3 linked regions of the Homo sapiens genome follow. The protein of the gene in region 2 interacts with the protein of the main gene of each other region in a biochemical or structural test. Each region holds a gene or a part of one and is shown on either strand. Other genes may lie near its edges.

Evidence for each region.
Region 1: of the proteins of PPP1R12A (region 2) and CDKN3, one has a biochemical effect on the other in vitro, tested with the Homo sapiens proteins (one study listed by BioGRID).
Region 3: the proteins of PPP1R12A (region 2) and PRKG1 form a complex in vitro, tested with the Homo sapiens proteins (one study listed by BioGRID).

Annotation. Positions count from the first base shown.
Region 1 is NC_000014.9:54,413,976-54,420,727, forward strand, and holds the end of CDKN3 (cyclin-dependent kinase inhibitor 3), read left to right. Parts: intron 1-1,923; coding exon 1,924-1,955; intron 1,956-3,872; coding exon 3,873-3,976; intron 3,977-4,238; coding exon of another isoform or gene 4,239-4,298; exon of another isoform or gene 4,299-4,331; intron 4,332-6,016; coding exon 6,017-6,103; 3' UTR 6,104-6,243; downstream 6,244-6,752. UniProt on the Homo sapiens protein: May play a role in cell cycle regulation. Dual specificity CC phosphatase active toward substrates containing either phosphotyrosine or phosphoserine residues. Dephosphorylates CDK2 at 'Thr-160' in a cyclin-dependent manner.
Region 2 is NC_000012.12:79,806,098-79,813,137, forward strand, and holds part of PPP1R12A (protein phosphatase 1 regulatory subunit 12A), read right to left. Parts: intron 3,914-7,040; coding exon 3,698-3,913; intron 2,481-3,697; coding exon 2,386-2,480; intron 1,234-2,385; coding exon 1,129-1,233; intron 237-1,128; coding exon 69-236; intron 1-68. UniProt on the Homo sapiens protein: Key regulator of protein phosphatase 1C (PPP1C). Mediates binding to myosin. As part of the PPP1C complex, involved in dephosphorylation of PLK1. Capable of inhibiting HIF1AN-dependent suppression of HIF1A activity.
Region 3 is NC_000010.11:52,295,456-52,298,859, reverse strand, and holds the end of PRKG1 (cGMP-dependent protein kinase 1), read right to left. Parts: 3' UTR 510-3,404; downstream 1-509. UniProt on the Homo sapiens protein: Serine/threonine protein kinase that acts as a key mediator of the nitric oxide (NO)/cGMP signaling pathway. GMP binding activates PRKG1, which phosphorylates serines and threonines on many cellular proteins.

The DNA of each region.
Region 1 (6,752 bases), on a different chromosome or scaffold from region 2:
CATGCCTCTTCCTAGCTTCTGGTGGTGGCCATCAATCCATGGCAGGCCTTGGCTTGCAGCTGAATCCCTCCAGTCTGCCTCTGTCATCACACACTTCCTCGGATGTCTGTGTCTTTGCATGGTGTTGTCCTTGTGTAAGGACACTAGTCATCTAGGATGAGGGCCTGCTCTAATTCGTCTTAACTTGAATATACCTGCAAAGACTCAAATTCTGAATAAGGTCCCACTCACAGGTACAGGATAAGGACTTCAGCATGTCTTTTGGGGGGACATAATTCAACCAGTAACACCTACCGTGTACCACACGCCAAGACTACCAAACGAGGCACAGTCCCCACCTTCGAGGAACCTATAACTAACACTACCATTTAACTGCAATAAGACAGGAGAGGCAGCACACAGGAAAATGATCCTTTCTGTAGGAGCACAAAGGCATTTTAGGAAATGAAATTTGAGGTTTTAAAAGATAAGTAGGAATTCATCAAATAGAAGAAAAAAGATGAAAATAGCAAAAGGTATAAAATAGTATTAATCTTGCAAAAAGACACTGAAGTGTTCTATCTTGATCTTTTTTTTTTTTTTTAATAAGGCAGTTGTCTCTTCTCTGTCACCCAGGCTGGAGTGCAGTGGCACTGTCATAGCTCACTGTAGCCTTGAACTGCCGGGCTCAAGCGATCCTCCCACCTCAGGCTCCCGAGTAGCTAGGACTTCAGGTGTGCGCCACCGTGCCAGGCTTTTTTTTTTTTTTTTTTTTGGAGAGACAGGGTCTCACTTTATTGCCAAAGCTGGTCTTAAACTACTGGACTCAAGCAGTCCTCCCACCTTGGCCTCCCAAAGTGCTGGGATTATAGGCCTGAGCCATCATGCCCAGCCTCTCCCTTTATATGGTAGATCCAGATCTCTGAAACAGTTCTATGTCTGGAACACTTTGTGGAAAGCAAGTTCACGAGTAAGACTAGGGGTCAATACCTATTCAGTCCTCTATTTCACATCCTAAAGCAAAATATATATCTACAGCTTTACCTACAATACAATACAATACAATACAGTAATTGATGTCCATAACGATAAGTCATCCACACTAAATTAGGCTCAGTATACCCTCTAAGTACATTAGGAAGCATGTAATACATTTTTTAGGATCTTTGAAAATGACTTAAATGAATAGTTTTGCTACTGAGGATTAATCTCCATTTTTCTGGAAAATCCAGTTATACAAAACTGCTAATTTCTTTACAGTGCTAGATAACAGCAGCTAATGTTCATTTACTTCTTACTCTGCACAAAGCTGTGTTCTAAGTCCTTGGCAAATGCTCACTCATTTGTGAGCCTCATTTAATCCTCACTCTGATGTACATACTATTGCTATCACCATTTTAAAGGTGAAAAGGCTGAGTCCCAGAGAGATTAAATAACTTGCTTAGCTTTACACATCTAATAAGTGGCAGAGCCAGGACTGAAGCCCAGGCAGTGGTGCTCCAGAGCCCATGCTCCAGACTTCGGTGATACCCTATCTCTGGACTCCTTTAGATACATGAATGGTTATTATCTACATGGCATTTGTGCAGTAACCACTCAGATTTTGTTTAGACAGAGGAATAATCAAAGTGACAGTTGGTAAAAGTCTGATTTCTATCTATTGGTAACATGCTCCATTTCTCAGATGTGGATCTTGGAACCTAAAGAGGTCAATAAGAAGACTCTGCCTATCTTGATGCTTAGAGGTGTTCAGAATTCCTCCCAACAAAGAAATAAGCACACCTTGCTCTCAGTTGATTAAATCAAAAATATTTATTAATCTTCGTGTGCAAGGCACTGTGCTAGGCATTAGAGTTGTAAATAGAAGGCAGAAAGAGCAAGTCTTTAGTTGTAACTAGGGATGGAATGAAATGTACAAACTTCAAAACTGTATTTCCCTTTCAGCTGCTATGGAGGACTTGGGAGATCTTGTCTTGGTAAGAAATATATTTCTATTATTTTTTTAACCGCCAAATAGACAAACTTCTGTTTCCAGACCATATGTTCATTTTGTATTAAAATGGAACCAAGCAAAATATAAGTTTGCTAAGACTCAAAGGATTACTTAAGGCCCTAAACATGGTGTTCCCTGGAAAGCTTGGGTGGGAGTGGGAGGTATTTTCAGCATTGTTCTGGAGGATTCTGGCAAAACATCATTTACAAGTCTTAACACCTGCATTCTTATTTTTTAACATTTTTTGATGTTCTTCCTGTGGAGGTGTTATAATAGAGTAACTTCCAAATAGTTTCCATGGGTAACTATTTATGAATACCAAAGTTAATTACTATATGTTAATTTAAAAAATGTTTTAATGTACTAAGAAAAACAAAAAAGAGTTCGTGAAATGCCACACTGGAGTAGTAGTTATTTTTTTAGTGTTGGATGATATCAAAATTGAAAGCTTTTGTGTTTCAAAGAATACTATCAAAATGACAAGACTACCCATAGAATGGGAAAAAATATTTGCAATCTATATATTTGATAAGGGATTTGTATCCAGAATATAAAAAGAACTCTTACAACTCAGTAATAAAGATAGGCCGGGCGTCGTGGCTCATGCCTGTAATCTCAGCACTTTGGGAGGCCAAGGCAGAAAGATCACCTGAGTTTAGGAGTTTGAGAACAGCATGAGCAACATGGTGAAACCCCATCTCTACAAGAAATACAAAAATTAGCCAGGCATAGTGGTGCATGCCTGTAGTCCCAGCTCCTTGTGGGACTGAGGCTGGAGGACTGCCTGGGCCCAGGAGGTCAAGGCACCAGTGAACCGAGTTTACACCACTGCACTCCAGCCTAGATGACAAAGTGAGATCGTCTCTCTCAAAAGAAAAAATAATAATAATAAACAAACAACATAACTGAAAAATGGGCAAAGTATCCGAATAAACCTTTCTACATGCAAGATACACATATAGTCAGTAAGCACATGAGAAGATGCTCAACATCATCAGTCATCAGGAAATGCAAATCAGAACCACAGTGGATACCACTTGACACCAATTAGGAAGGGTATTATAAAAACATGAAAAATAACAAGTATTGGCAAGGATGTAGAGAAATTCGAACCCTCATACACTGTTGGTGGGAATGTAAAATGGTGCAGCGGCTTTGGAAAATAGTCTAGCAGTAGTTCTTCAAACAAGTAAACATTAACATATGACCCAGCAATTTCACTCCAAAGTATATACCCAAAGACTTGTATACAAATGTTTATAGCAGCATTAATCATAATAGCCAAAAAATGGAAACAGCCTAAATGTCCATCAGTTGACGAACAGATAAACACAATGTGGCATATCTATACAATGGAATATTATTTGATCATAAAAAGGAATTAAATACAGACATATGCTACAATATGTATGAACCCTGAACACATTATGCTAAGAGAAGTCAGACACACACAAAAAAATATTGTATGTTTCCGTTTATGTGATTGCTCAGAATAGGCAGATCTACAGAGACAAAGTACACTAGTGGTTGCCTATGGCAGGGGTTGATGGGGAATAGAGGATGACAGCAAAAGGGTACACTTCTTTCTGAGGTGATGAAGTGCTTTAAAATTGACTGTGGTGATGGTTGCACATATCTGTAAATATACTAAATCACTGAATGGATGAACACTTTAAATGGATGAAAGAATGAAGCCAGTGTTAAACTCTAATTCAACCATACGGTCATTTAAGATCATAATTTAACTGTCAAAAACACACACTAAAAGTCTCAGTCTTTTAATTCATTTGGAACAATTACACCAGTCTTCTGTATCAACAGAAGTCTTATTAAATATAAAATGCTGTACCCTGTCACTAGTTATTTAATAACATATTATTTTTCTGTCATGTTCCATTAGTAGCTGCTTGTCTCCTACTATACCTGTCTGACACAATATCACCAGAGCAAGCCATAGACAGCCTGCGAGACCTAAGAGGATCCGGGGCAATACAGACCATCAAGGTGAGGAGGTGGGCGGTGCTTGCTTGGTTGTGGTTGGGGTCGTTGTTACAAATACAGATTCATGTGTAACCAAAAGGTTACATATGAAAATCCAAAAGGGCAGTGAAATGAAAATCCAAAGCACTCTGTTATTCAAATACCACTTGCTTATGCTTTTAGTTTTTAAAAATTTACAAGTAAATATAATCCAGGTAGTCTAAAAAAGCACACAGGATTTCAAACAAGATAATGAAAATTTGAACTTCCTGGTTTACTTTTCCAGGATCTACCTACTTCTCAGTTTTTGCCCCAGTCCGTTTTGGGAATGGATCCTCTCACCTAGGACAATGAGATGGTTATTGTTAATACAAACTTGGTACGTTCTTGGGTAGATTCTTGGCCAAAAAAAATCTATGGAAGATCTTGTTATATCACCAAAACATTTAATAAAGACAGATGAATGACTATAATACAAAAAATGGAAAGCAGTGCTAATTATCCTTTGCAGTAGATAACTGGGGACATCTTCCACATGTACATTCCCCTAACACTTCAAAACACTGCACTAGCAATGCCAAGGATATTGCATTAATCATGTTACTGAAAAGATTCTGCAGATGTCACTTCATTTTGTAGATCTGTAAAGCTAATGTGCCTTCTTTTCAGAAGCGTGCCCTCTCAGCATTAGAATCCGCTCATCAGAGGAGTGGGCACCAAAGAATCCTGGCTGTTAGGCAGCTCCCTAGACTTGAGAGCCCATCTTCCCAGGGTTGGAGGTCTAATCCAGTGTCATTAACAGTGAATTATCATAATTACTGATAAATTCACCAAGCAACCTGATTCTTAGGGCTTAAATAAGGTCATTAACGGGACAATCCATACAAGATCCACTCCACTGTACAGGTCTGAAACAGACAACTCTCTTTATGTTAAAAATCAAACGATGCGGCCAGGCGCGGTGGCTCATGCCTATATCCTAGCACTTTGGGAGGCTGAGCTGGGTGGATCACTTAAGGCCAGGAGTTGGAGACCAGCCTGGCCAACATAACGAAACCTTGTCCCTACTAAAAATACAAAAATTAGCCAGGGTGGTTATGTGTGCCTGTAGTCCCAGCTACTTGGGAGCCTGAGGCACAAAAATCACTTGAACCTGGGAGGCAGAGGTTGCAGTGAACCGAGATCACACCACTGCACTCCAGCCTGGGCGACAAAGTGAGACCCTGTCTCAAAAAAAAAAAAAAATCAAATGATGCTTCAAATCCAAAAAGTTCACCTCTCTTCTCTTGAAAACAAACTACATGGCCATGGCCAGATGTATATATGAATATCCATATGTTTTACATCTTTAACATTGCAGATAATTAAGTCCATATTACTACAGACTCAGTTTATCACCTCAGCATTCTGTGGCAAACAGGCTTGCTGGTGTTAGCAATGCAGTTTCCACATCTCAATAAGGATATGAAATGAGATGATTGGCAGAGTAAGAATATCTTTTGGGAGGCTATTAAAACTCCAAATAAATTATTTAAAGCTTTTATTTTGCTTATCTGCTGAGATTAGCAATACAGTTTGTTTTTAAAAAATATTGTCTATGAAAATTATCCCTAGTGCATTATGTCATCACAAAAAAGCAGAAGACTAGGGCTTCTATAAATTGAGAAATGGATTTTGTTAAATATACCAGTTACTTGCTACAGAAAGTGCTCTGTCCTTCTTACCAGGGGGGAAAAATGTTAGCAAAAATAATGCCATTATGTACTGTTTTAATCTTATTTGGTCCTGTAAGTAAAGAGAGAAAGAATTTTAGACTTAAAACATATCCATCTACATTTCATTTCACCTTCTGATTTTTAGAGACTTGTAGAACAATAGTTTTTCACACTATATGGCTTTACTAAAAGATAAAACTTCCCCATGATGCAAATGCTTCCTTACCCAAAAAGATGTAGAATTGTGCTTAGCAAGTATTTTTTTTTATTCCTGATACCTGCTAATATTGTGCCCACACTGATAACTAGTTTTCTACAGTGTATTCCAATGTATCTTTACTTTTTTCAGCAATACAATTATCTTCATGAGTTTCGGGACAAATTAGCTGCACATCTATCATCAAGAGATTCACAATCAAGATCTGTATCAAGATAAAGGAATTCAAATAGCATATATATGACCATGTCTGAAATGTCAGTTCTCTAGCATAATTTGTATTGAAATGAAACCACCAGTGTTATCAACTTGAATGTAAATGTACATGTGCAGATATTCCTAAAGTTTTATTGACAAAACTCGTTGTGTCTCTTTCATTTCTTATAGGAATAGGAAAATTGGGATAGGAAAATTGGTATGCAATTTTCCTTTTAGAAATGAATTGGTTGTTCTGGTATATTCTACCTGGAGGTAATGCTGAAAACATGCATTTGGAAAAATATTTGAATGCCTATTTTTAATACTTAGTACTGCACTTTTACTTCATTTTACTGTTTGTAACCACTGGGTAGCATATGACAAAGTAGTAAGTATGAGAATTGGTATGAGTGCCCAAACTTACTTTTAAATGATGTCCCCCTCCCTCTCTATTCCTCCCAAAACTTCTTCCGCTTTTTACTTCATAGACCTCCGGAATTGAAAAGGATCCTGTGAGTCTTCCACTCGCCCCCTCCCAGTACTGGATCAGCCCCAAGGGTGTTTATTCACTATGGGCTGGAACATTTTCAGAGACAAGGAATTCACTGGTTCAGACAGCTGCTCCACCTTTTGTCCGCCCTAGGAACTACACGGAATGAGCTTAATCCTT
Region 2 (7,040 bases):
TAAACAAAAACGCATGCACATACATAAGCACACAGTAGACCTGAGCACAAAATGTATCTGTGACTTACCTGCTTTGTGTGCCTGCTGAGGAAGAACCCGTTGTAATCTTTGTAGTAGTGCTTGTGCTGGAAAGCAGGCTTTTCTGAAGCCCAGCTGCAGAGGTAACTGTTGGTGTTGATGTGGTGCTTGGAACACTAGAACTAATCAAATCATCTTGTCTTCTACCAAAGGAGCAACTAAACAAAAGAGTCATATCTATATAGGATGTGTTTGTATGTGTATTCTATAGTTAATGTCTATACATTATATAAATTACAAGGCTAGAAAAAAAATTTAAAAACTGTGTTCCTAAATACACCACCAGCTCCAGCACCAAGAGTTGCATCTACAACTTGCTAGAGTTTAGAAGATTTCACTTAATTCGGTAGTGTATCATTTTAGTGCCTCCTCCCAACTTTCTCAACAAGACAAAGATGATCTGATATTTCATATTTTTGAAACTATTCCACACCATATGGTCATGCCAGGCTGAGCCTGAAAAACACACTTTGGTTTTGTATTACCCAGGGAAAACAAGACGTTGACATTTTTTTGAAGGAAATTATTTCAGCAATGGGTCAGATACCTCGGAAGTAACCAATGCCTACATGATACTTGTTCACATCTTATTCTTTTTGGTTGCTTTTAGTAAAGAAATTGTTTATAGGGCTTTTTTTTCCTCTTCAATATGATACTACCAACATTCCAACTGAAGGCATTTCCATAGCTCTGAGTTCTAGGGCAAGCCAAATCTTTCCAGATCAACAATGACAACTAGATCCATTAAGACACTGGCCTGTTTAAGTTGTTCTAGTCAAGGAGTTCCTTCTAAAGGAGTTCCTTTTAAATATGTAACAATCCAAAAAACATTTCATAATATTTGAAGCTTAATTATATAATAGGCATAACAAATTATCACCTATCTTTAAATATATATCCTGTGTTTAGAGTAAGTTTTAAACAACAAAAACTCGTATTTAATAAAAACACATATTTGTTTAAAATGATGTTAAACTGAGGGCTCCAAACAAATTGCCTCATATTTTTATAAATGAATACATAAAAACCGCTTAAGAATAGTATTATTACCTTTTATGATACGTTGATCCTTCATTAACTGAGCTATTTTTTTTAAGATCATCTTCCCATTTTCTCCTTGTATATGAACTACTTGTTCGCAAACTTGAAGAATCTCTGTTAAAAGAACACCCTTCAGATTCTGGTACATAATTTTAAAATAGGATTAAGAAAGCGGTACACTAGTAAATATTAGTATAAGCTGAAACTAGTAAAAACCTTTGGGAGGACACTTAGGAATACTAATCAAGAAGATAAAGTAATTTCAGTACTAAGATTATATACCCTAAGGTATAATTTTTCCCCTAAGTATGGGGGAAAATTCAGATATTTATAGAAATATGCTTTTTGATCACAAAATATAAAGTAGGGGAGATGCTTACTTTAACCGCAGAAGATCTACTTTATAGTATGTTATGTGCCGACAAAAAAAATGCTTATTAAAAATATATATTAACATAGAAGACTGCTTATGAGATCTTAGGGGAAAAAAATAAAAAAATTAGATATTATAACATGATTAAAAGTATATTAAAAAGTTATTGGCCGGGTGCAGTGGTTCACACCTGTAACCCAGCACTTTGAGAGGCCGAGACAGGTGGATCACAAGGTCAAGAGTTCAAGACCAGCCTGGCCAAGATGGTGAAACCCTGTCTCTACTAAAAATAAAAAAATTAGCTGAGCAGGGTGGCAGGTGCCTGTAATCCCAGCCACTTGAGAGGCTGAGGCAGAGAACTACTTGAACCTGAGAGGTGGAGGTTGCAGTGAGCCGAGATTGCGCCACTGCACTCCAGCGTGGGTGACAGAGCGAGACTCTGTCTCAAAAAAAATAAAAATAAAAATAAAAATAATTAAATTAAAAAAATAAAATTCTATAAGCTGAAAAACAGGAAGAAACTAAAATATTTAAACAATATTTAAACAAAAATATTTAAAACAAACTAAAATGATTAAGTAAGGGCTTTCCTTCTTCTTTCCCCTTTCCTAAATGTTCCAAATATTTAGAGAACTCATACTAGTTCATGACCTTATCTCCTCCCACTTTCCCCTTACTCTGTTCCAGCCACATCTTCTTTGCTATTATTTCATGAACATACCAAGCCTGCACCTCCTCAGGACTATGTACCTGGTATTTTCTCCTTCAGGAATATCCTCCATCTCTTCCCACAATACATATCCGCACATAATTACAATGCTCATGTATTAACTCTAATGCTAGATAATAAAGATTTTATAGTGAATGCATAAAGCAAATCAAAATAAACTCACCTGTTTTCTTTCTCTTCAATGTCAGATGTACTGGCTAGTCGTCTTGGTATTGTAGGTGCAACATATGCAAGCCTAGTTCCTTTACTATCTTTCTCCTACACAACAGGGAAAAAAATAAGTAAAAATTAATTTGGGTACTGACTATAGGCAATGCTAAAAGTATTAAGAAAAGGTTATTCAATAATTATAATTACATAGCTATCATAGTTTACAGTATTTCAACAATTCCTAGCTGAACTCTAAAATTAATGTCAATCAATAATCAGCCTGTTCAAATTAGTTTTCTTTCTCTTTTAGCCTGGAATCAGATAATATTTTACTAAGAAAGGAAAAAAATTTCTCCAGATTTTAATGACTTTTTCTAAAACTTCTCTAACAGATTAATACTGTGTCATAAGCTGAAATATCTTTATTTCTTCCAGAGAAATAAACTTTCAAATATTGTTCACTGAGAGGTCTCAAGCATTTATATTATATAAGCTATTTAGAACCTTGATAATCAATGCTCTCAAATACATCAAAATAGTCAAAACAAATATTATTTAAATTATATTTATCCAAATATGGCTAAGAGTGTGTAGTGACAATGACACTCTGATACATTCCTAGTAAGCTGGCATAAAATACCTGGAAACCAACTGCACAGTAAACTGATAAAAAAGCAAAAATATTAGAATTACTTGATGAGAAATTTCATCTGAATTTCTGATATAAGGAAACATTTCTAAGTATAGAAAGAAAACTGTATGGGCAAAAAAAATAGTTCAAGCACTGAATATGCTGTAGAAATAAATACTAGTATTGAATAAACTGTGGTACATCCTATATAATGCAGTATTAATACCACCTCTCAAAATAGTTATTAAATTTACTCATTAAGACAAAGTTGCTTGTAATATGGTAGATGAAAAATCTGGTATTTTTTTTCAGATACTGAATAAATGTAACTTATGAGTATACTAACATTCTAGAATAAATGTGTTCCTATGTTTTTTAAACTTCAGAAAGTTTCTTGAATCATAATAAACAAAATAAGCCTGCTCCTTAATACAGTTCTATTATAAATTCTCAAGTAAGGTAATAGATTCCTTTAACGGAGTATAGTCCCATAATTTATGTTTTAGGCAAATACATCTGATCTTTCCAGTATTTATAATTCTGTATAAATTACATTTGTCTTATGTAATTCATTAAGGTTAATTAACTTGATACCTAGATCTAAAGATAACTAGCAGAAAATCTACCAGATTTGATGTTCCTGGAAAAGAAATCATAACAGTTTTCATAGAAACCAGACTGTGAAATAGATTACCTTTTCTTTATTATCCAAAGAGGAGGAAAGTCTGGGACTTGAAGCTGAACGTGTAACACCTGCAGTATCTTTTTCTTTCTGACCCTCTTTAGATGCTGTGATTTCAGCAAGTGCACCATAGCTGCCCGTCTTTCTAAGTCCTAACCTCCAAGTTGCAGGAGACTCATCTTTTCTCTCTTCTTCTTTGGGAGAAATTTTTGTAGCTGTGGTTGGAAACTGTGTTTATTTTATTTTTTAGGAAAAGAAAAAAGAATTTGTAAAGCTGATCAGTCCTTAAATTGGAAACAATAAGTTTACAGATAATATATTTAAAATTATGGTTTACAGTTTCAGGATAAAACACTTTTACTACATAGGTTAATGTCTTAGTAAAAAATGTAAAGATCTAAAAATTTTAAAGAAATAGACTACCTTCCTAGGGGTTAGACTTAAGAAAACACACTACACACTTTATATCACACAGAAAAATTATGATGCAAATACAGAAAACAGAAATGAGCACACCATAAGGACTTAAAACCATGCATCTTTGGAACCAATTTATATTAAACTTGTTATGTTGTAACCTAATATAAATTCTTGCACATAGAAATGCCTCACCATAGATTTTTCACCCTTACTGGGCACAAGAACAATGCCAGTTTTGCGCAAGCCCTGCCTCCATGATGCAGGATCTACTGATTCCACCACAGGCATGATAGGAGCAATGAAATCATACTAAAGCCAATTAAAATAAGACAGGTAAAGAGACAAAGATTGAAAGCATGAAAACAGAAAAGGGAAGTTATGAACAAAAAATATTTTCTTCATTTGAAAATAATTTTATAATTAACCCCAATAATTGGGTAATGATCCAATCTTTAAAAGTCACTGGGAACAAGTTCTAATTTTAGCATGAGATAATCTGAAAAAAATCTAATAAACTTCTAAAGCAATTAAAAGGCATACAGAGTAGATAATATAGCATGTGACTGAACAAACTACTGCACATGAATTTTGTTTTTAATCCATGTATATACTCTGGTTAAAAAATTTTGTGTCCAATATAATCAACAAAAACTAGTAACTGATATTTTTCCAATTATAATACTTTTTTTTTTAACATCACAGCCTTAAATTTACTGATTTCCCCACCAAACATTAACTATTTCAACTATAATAAAAACTAATTTTATGTACAAATATTTATGCTATTTTAAGGGCTTTCCAACAACCCTAAAAATGCAACCTCTGTTATCTTTAGATCACTTCATCAACTTCACTTCTAGAAATTCTATACTCAACCACAGTTAACTATATAGATTGGTGAATACAGCAACTAACTAGTTGCCACAAGCATAGGGTATTAATAATTTTTTAAAAATCATTTCTTTCATATCTATTGCCAACATTTGCTATAATTAGCAGGTTAACAGGGCTTGTTAAAGCCCCCATGATGATGCTTGAGGGCCACTTCATGGACAAAACTGTTATAAAGATATACCTCTGGTACTTCCAGTAATGAATTGCTATCAATAGTGTCTAAGCATTCCTCAGTTCCTAAAATGTGCACCAAAGTGCTCCAGAGTGTCACAACAAAATCACGGGGGCTCTGTAGAATATTTTAAAGTTTTGAGAGAAGCACAGTGACATCTCATAGACACTGCACAAACTGCCATTTTGATCACATTTCCATCAAACTACTTAATGAGACAAACAGGCAATTCCTTTTGCCAGTGGCACTGTGAAAAAATCCTACCAAACACTAGGGGCTCCAATGACCAAGAAAGTTTGCGAACTCTAATATTCTGTGCAATATGATAGGTACTGAGACAGCTGCTTATTGATTGGTGAGTTTACAGGGCTACACTGTAAATGCTAGGCTTTGTGGAACACAGATAATATTAATACACAAATGATTGAGTGTGGCTGTAACCAATAAAACTTTAGGGACAATGACTTTTTTTTATTTTTTTTCTCCAACCAGTTTGCTATACAAAAACAGGTAATGGGCTAGGTTTGGCCCACCAGCCATAGTTTGCCAACACCCACATTAGGTCTCCCACCTCCTCAAAAAACAGAAACAAAAAAACAAACAAAAAACCTGGAAACAAACGTTTTTTCCCCCATTATAAAACAGCCAGAGTCAGTCAGTCAGATAACATTTATTGTTATAAATGAAGCTAACATTTATTGTTATAAATGAAGCTAACATTTAACAAATATTTACTAGTGTGTGACCCTCAGCTAAGTGCTTCACATGGGTTATCCTGTTTCAACCTTATAATTACCCAATGAAATACTACTATTACTGTTATTTTAGAGTTGAGAAAAACGAGGCAGTACTATCTATCAATTTTGAAATGGGCATTTGTTACACTGTAATGGCTGATATACCTCCACTCTGCCCAACATGAACTTGGATTTAAGTACTGCTTTATATGTCTAAAAGCACCTTTTAATTTTACTTGATATATAAATAAACCCTTCCTGAAATACTTAACTATACCTCCTCCTCCATTAAACTCTCTTCTTTGGCTTTTTTTACTGGACACTATCTTCACCTTCTTTTTCTTTTTACTCTGACCATTCCTTTTCTTGACTGACTCTGTGTGTGCGTGTGTGTGTGTGTGTGTGTGTGTGTGTGTAACGTTCCTTATACAGGCTGTGTGTGTTTGTGTGTGTGTGTGTGTACAACTTTCCTTGTGCTAGCCCTTCCAGAGCCTGCTCTTGGATCTCTCATATTCTCTTTCTACTTTCTTCTCCTGGGGGGTTAGGAGGAGGGTCTTTACTTCCTCAGGCTAAATATTAATTGTAGTCAGCTTATTCTCAAATGTGTTATTCTCCAGTCCAGTCTCCTAAATTTCCAGTCCTAATTTTACCTGTCTATTCTAGGTAAAATTCTACCACACTATTCTAGAGTGGACAATCTAGAACTATAACTGAAAACTTGAAACTCAGTATGTCTAAAATAAAACACCTTTACTTCCAAACCATCTCTTCTTCAGTTCCCTAATTCTGTTAATGGCACTAAGTATATCTCTTCAATCTCCTATGTTTCAAACTTCACAATTATGTTAGACCTTCTCTGTCATTTTCCTCCATCCATAAATTAGAGGTCAAGTCTCTAAATCTCCTCTCCTTTATAAGCCCAGAGTCACTTCTCTAGTTCATATTCTTATCATTGTGGGCAACTTCAATGACTTTCTAATAAACCTTTTCTCAATAAGCCTCTCATCTTCAAATCTGTACACTGCTGTCAGAATAATATTCTATAAAGAATAATCCTCTCATGGCATTGTTCAAACATCTTCCACGACTACTACTTATCAAATAAATTATAAAAGTGTTATCCTACAGTTGA
Region 3 (3,404 bases), on a different chromosome or scaffold from region 2:
ATTTGTTGTAATCATATTGTTCCCCAAATGTTTCTTCTTTGTGCATATGATGAAGCCAAGGAATCAGGTGAAAAATCCTTGGACAAAGACTCATGAAGTTGCTTTTCATATGAAATCATTTCCTCCTAGGATGTAGTAATATACAAGAATTGTCCCTTTGATTGTTTTGCCTAGTACAGAGTTTGACTAGGGATAGCCCAAAAAAGGACTGTGTGGTGGTCATGCTCAGAAATCTGCTAATTTCTGAGTTTGTGTGAATATCTATATTCACTTTGCTTTTCACACTGGATGGCCCAACATTATTCCTATGAATTCTTTAAAACCAATTTGTTGGATTAGTTTTATATTAGATTATAATATAGTATATTATTTCATGAGGGATGCTTGGATTATAGGTATTTCCTACTTTGTTATAGTGACATTCTACAACAGCACTACCTGGTATTTCATCTAGTATGATATACCAATTCTATTCTTGGAATCTTGTCTGGAATTAAACATCAACTAAGTTCAAAAGTAATTATTTTTTTATTTCAACTCTATAAAGTATACAACAGGCACTCAGCAATTACAGCTGCAGGAAAAATACAGAGCAAATCAAAGCAGGTAAATTTATGAAAAAGTTTTTAATCTACATCAAAAGAGTGCAAGTGGTCAATGACCATTTGATGACAGTTTGTTGCATTCTGACTAACAAAGAACTCTTTCATGTAGAACAAATTGTAAGAGGACAATCAAATAACCATAGCTGTAAGAATACAAAAGAACTGACCAGTTGTAAAAACATCATACATTGAAATAAATTTGATAGATGATGCTTAAAGAAATGTCCCTTTACTCAGAAAGCCCCAACCTCTGAGTCATTGCCAAGGTCCCAGAGCTCTGTCTGTTGATTCAGGGGCAGAGAGGAGGGCTAACAACACACTTTCAATGTTTTGCTTTCTAGGTCTGTTGAAAACTTGCCTCGTAAATGATTTGCATATACAAGAACTCGGAAAAAGCATCCTGTTTTGTTGAGAGGTGCACCAAGTGACTTTTTCATCATTGGTTTCATAACGAGGTCTGGTTAGCAGTCATTTCCAATTTTTCTTTTCGGTTGGACCATTGTCAATGGAGTCTATAAAATGAGATATGTTAGAACTTGACTGCACTAATTTATTTTTACAGAATCTGCACAGCTTAGCAAAACAGGAATACCTGTATACAGACTGATAGAATGTCATATATTAATTTGACCTGCACATACATTTATACATTTCACAGAAATGACGCTGTATCTCATTAACAGATACACAGCTCTGGTACATTTAACAGAAATAAGAGAACAACTTCATCATTTCTGTAATTCATCAATATTATATAATAAAGGCTTATAAATTGTTAGCAGAAAGAACTGTAAAACGCAGCAAGCTAAGAAAGGACAACATTTTGAGGTGTGTTTGTCTTTGTCATGCAGCATAACACCAAATTTGTTTTTTTAATAGGATGCCATGAATTTAAGGCACTTGCAACAATGCCAGATAGCCAGGTCATGTTCTAAACTATGGGACAGATGAATAACAGTACAGTTGACATAATTTTCAATAATACTGACAATTATGACATTAATTCAAGTCTACTTGGACCTAAAAACATTATTCAATACAAATAAAATGAAATAATAATGCTGTGAAACACTAAAAAAAGTTATATGTACCACAAAATATCACACAAAAATACCTATTTACATAAATATTTGTCTGTGGTCCTATAGTGAAAGAAAACGTTGTTATGGATAATGCACAGATCACCTCTATTGTATGAAATCAGTTCTAATATCCTTATTTTCAACATGGTAGCTGACTTCATTAAATTTGTTTACCATCAGTTCAGTCATTTAGAAATGAAACAGGAAAAATTCAATAGTTGAGTTTATTACTACACATGTGTAATTCACATGCATATTCCACAATTTTAGGTAAAAATTATGACTTGTAAAGAATATAACCAAAATAAATTTGTTTTGAATGCCACATGGATCTGATTCATGTCTTAATAAGAAAGAAGATATAAACATAAAAAGCATGTATAGCGTTTTTCCAGAAATTATTTTTTCAAATGTATTCAATCTATCCCAGTTGTTTTAATGTTGCTTCCCTTGGCAGTTTCAGTTTTCCTGTGAGTCAAGACACACAGAAAGCCCTTATTTCCCATACTCAACACATTAACAAGAAAATCATATAACAAATCAAACAAGTTGGCACTATTCTAACTTATCCAGATGTTCTTTAATGTAAGAAAATAGAGGGGTTGTGAAAAATTCAGAAATAAAGTGAGATGCATTTTATGGAACTGACCATGAATTTTAGCCCTAGAGTCTTCATTAAGACAAGATTTAAATCCTAAAAATTCAATGTTGACAAAATTAGACGAATGTTTTCTGTTGGTACATCTTGGAAGATGTAGTTTACCTTTATTTTGTGGTAATTACTTCAGACATCAAATGCAATGCTATGGGTGAAATGAACAAAGATGCAGTAACAAGTGGGAGAAACAATCTACAGTTTCTTGTGCTGAATGCTACTTCTTCCTTCTCCATTGAACTTATTCATATTGGTTGTCTTAGACTTGAACCATAGTTCCAAAATCCATAGCAAGTGCTAATCTCTGGGACTTTGGGGATTTTTAAAACGTTATAGGAGCAGATTCTCTTTCCAAATAACAAGGTAAATTTAGTATTCTAGCAAGCCTTTCTTTAGCAAGCCTAAACCACATTATCTTTCAACAAAAGTTACTGAACATTCACTATAATATTGGAATTACATATTTTTAAAAAGCCAATTAAAAATATAAAACTCTTGAAATAACATTCATAGCTAGATTTTAGGTTGATATGTTTAATTTTATATTCTAAAATCTGTAGAAAACAGTGGATATCTTGGGGAATAGACCAATTTGGAGAAATTGTAAGGGACGGAAAACTCCAAAAATACAAGAATAACAATATTTTAGGATTAAAGTTCTAATTGAAGTTTATACCCTTTTCATTTTATCCTCCAAAATTTTAAGAATATTATATTTTCATAAGATACCATATTCTAAGGTAGTTTTGAGTAAGAACAATTCAAGCAAAATTTATAAGATTTGCCTTCTTAGTTAAGGTGTAATGATCTAATTGGACTTTTTCTTCCAGAAATGTAGGCGTTTGATTGATTAAAAAGAAAACTCTACTGAAAAAAAAAGCAAGCGTCAATTTAATATACCAAATTCACACAGGGCCAAAACAGAATGACAGCTTGAAAGCTTCTATATTTTTCTTCACAGGTATAATGTAATTTTGTCCAGGAAATGCTTCCAAATGGCTGAGTTACTTATGACAGCTAATAATAGTCAACTGGCATGCCAGTGAAGGACTCAGTTTAATT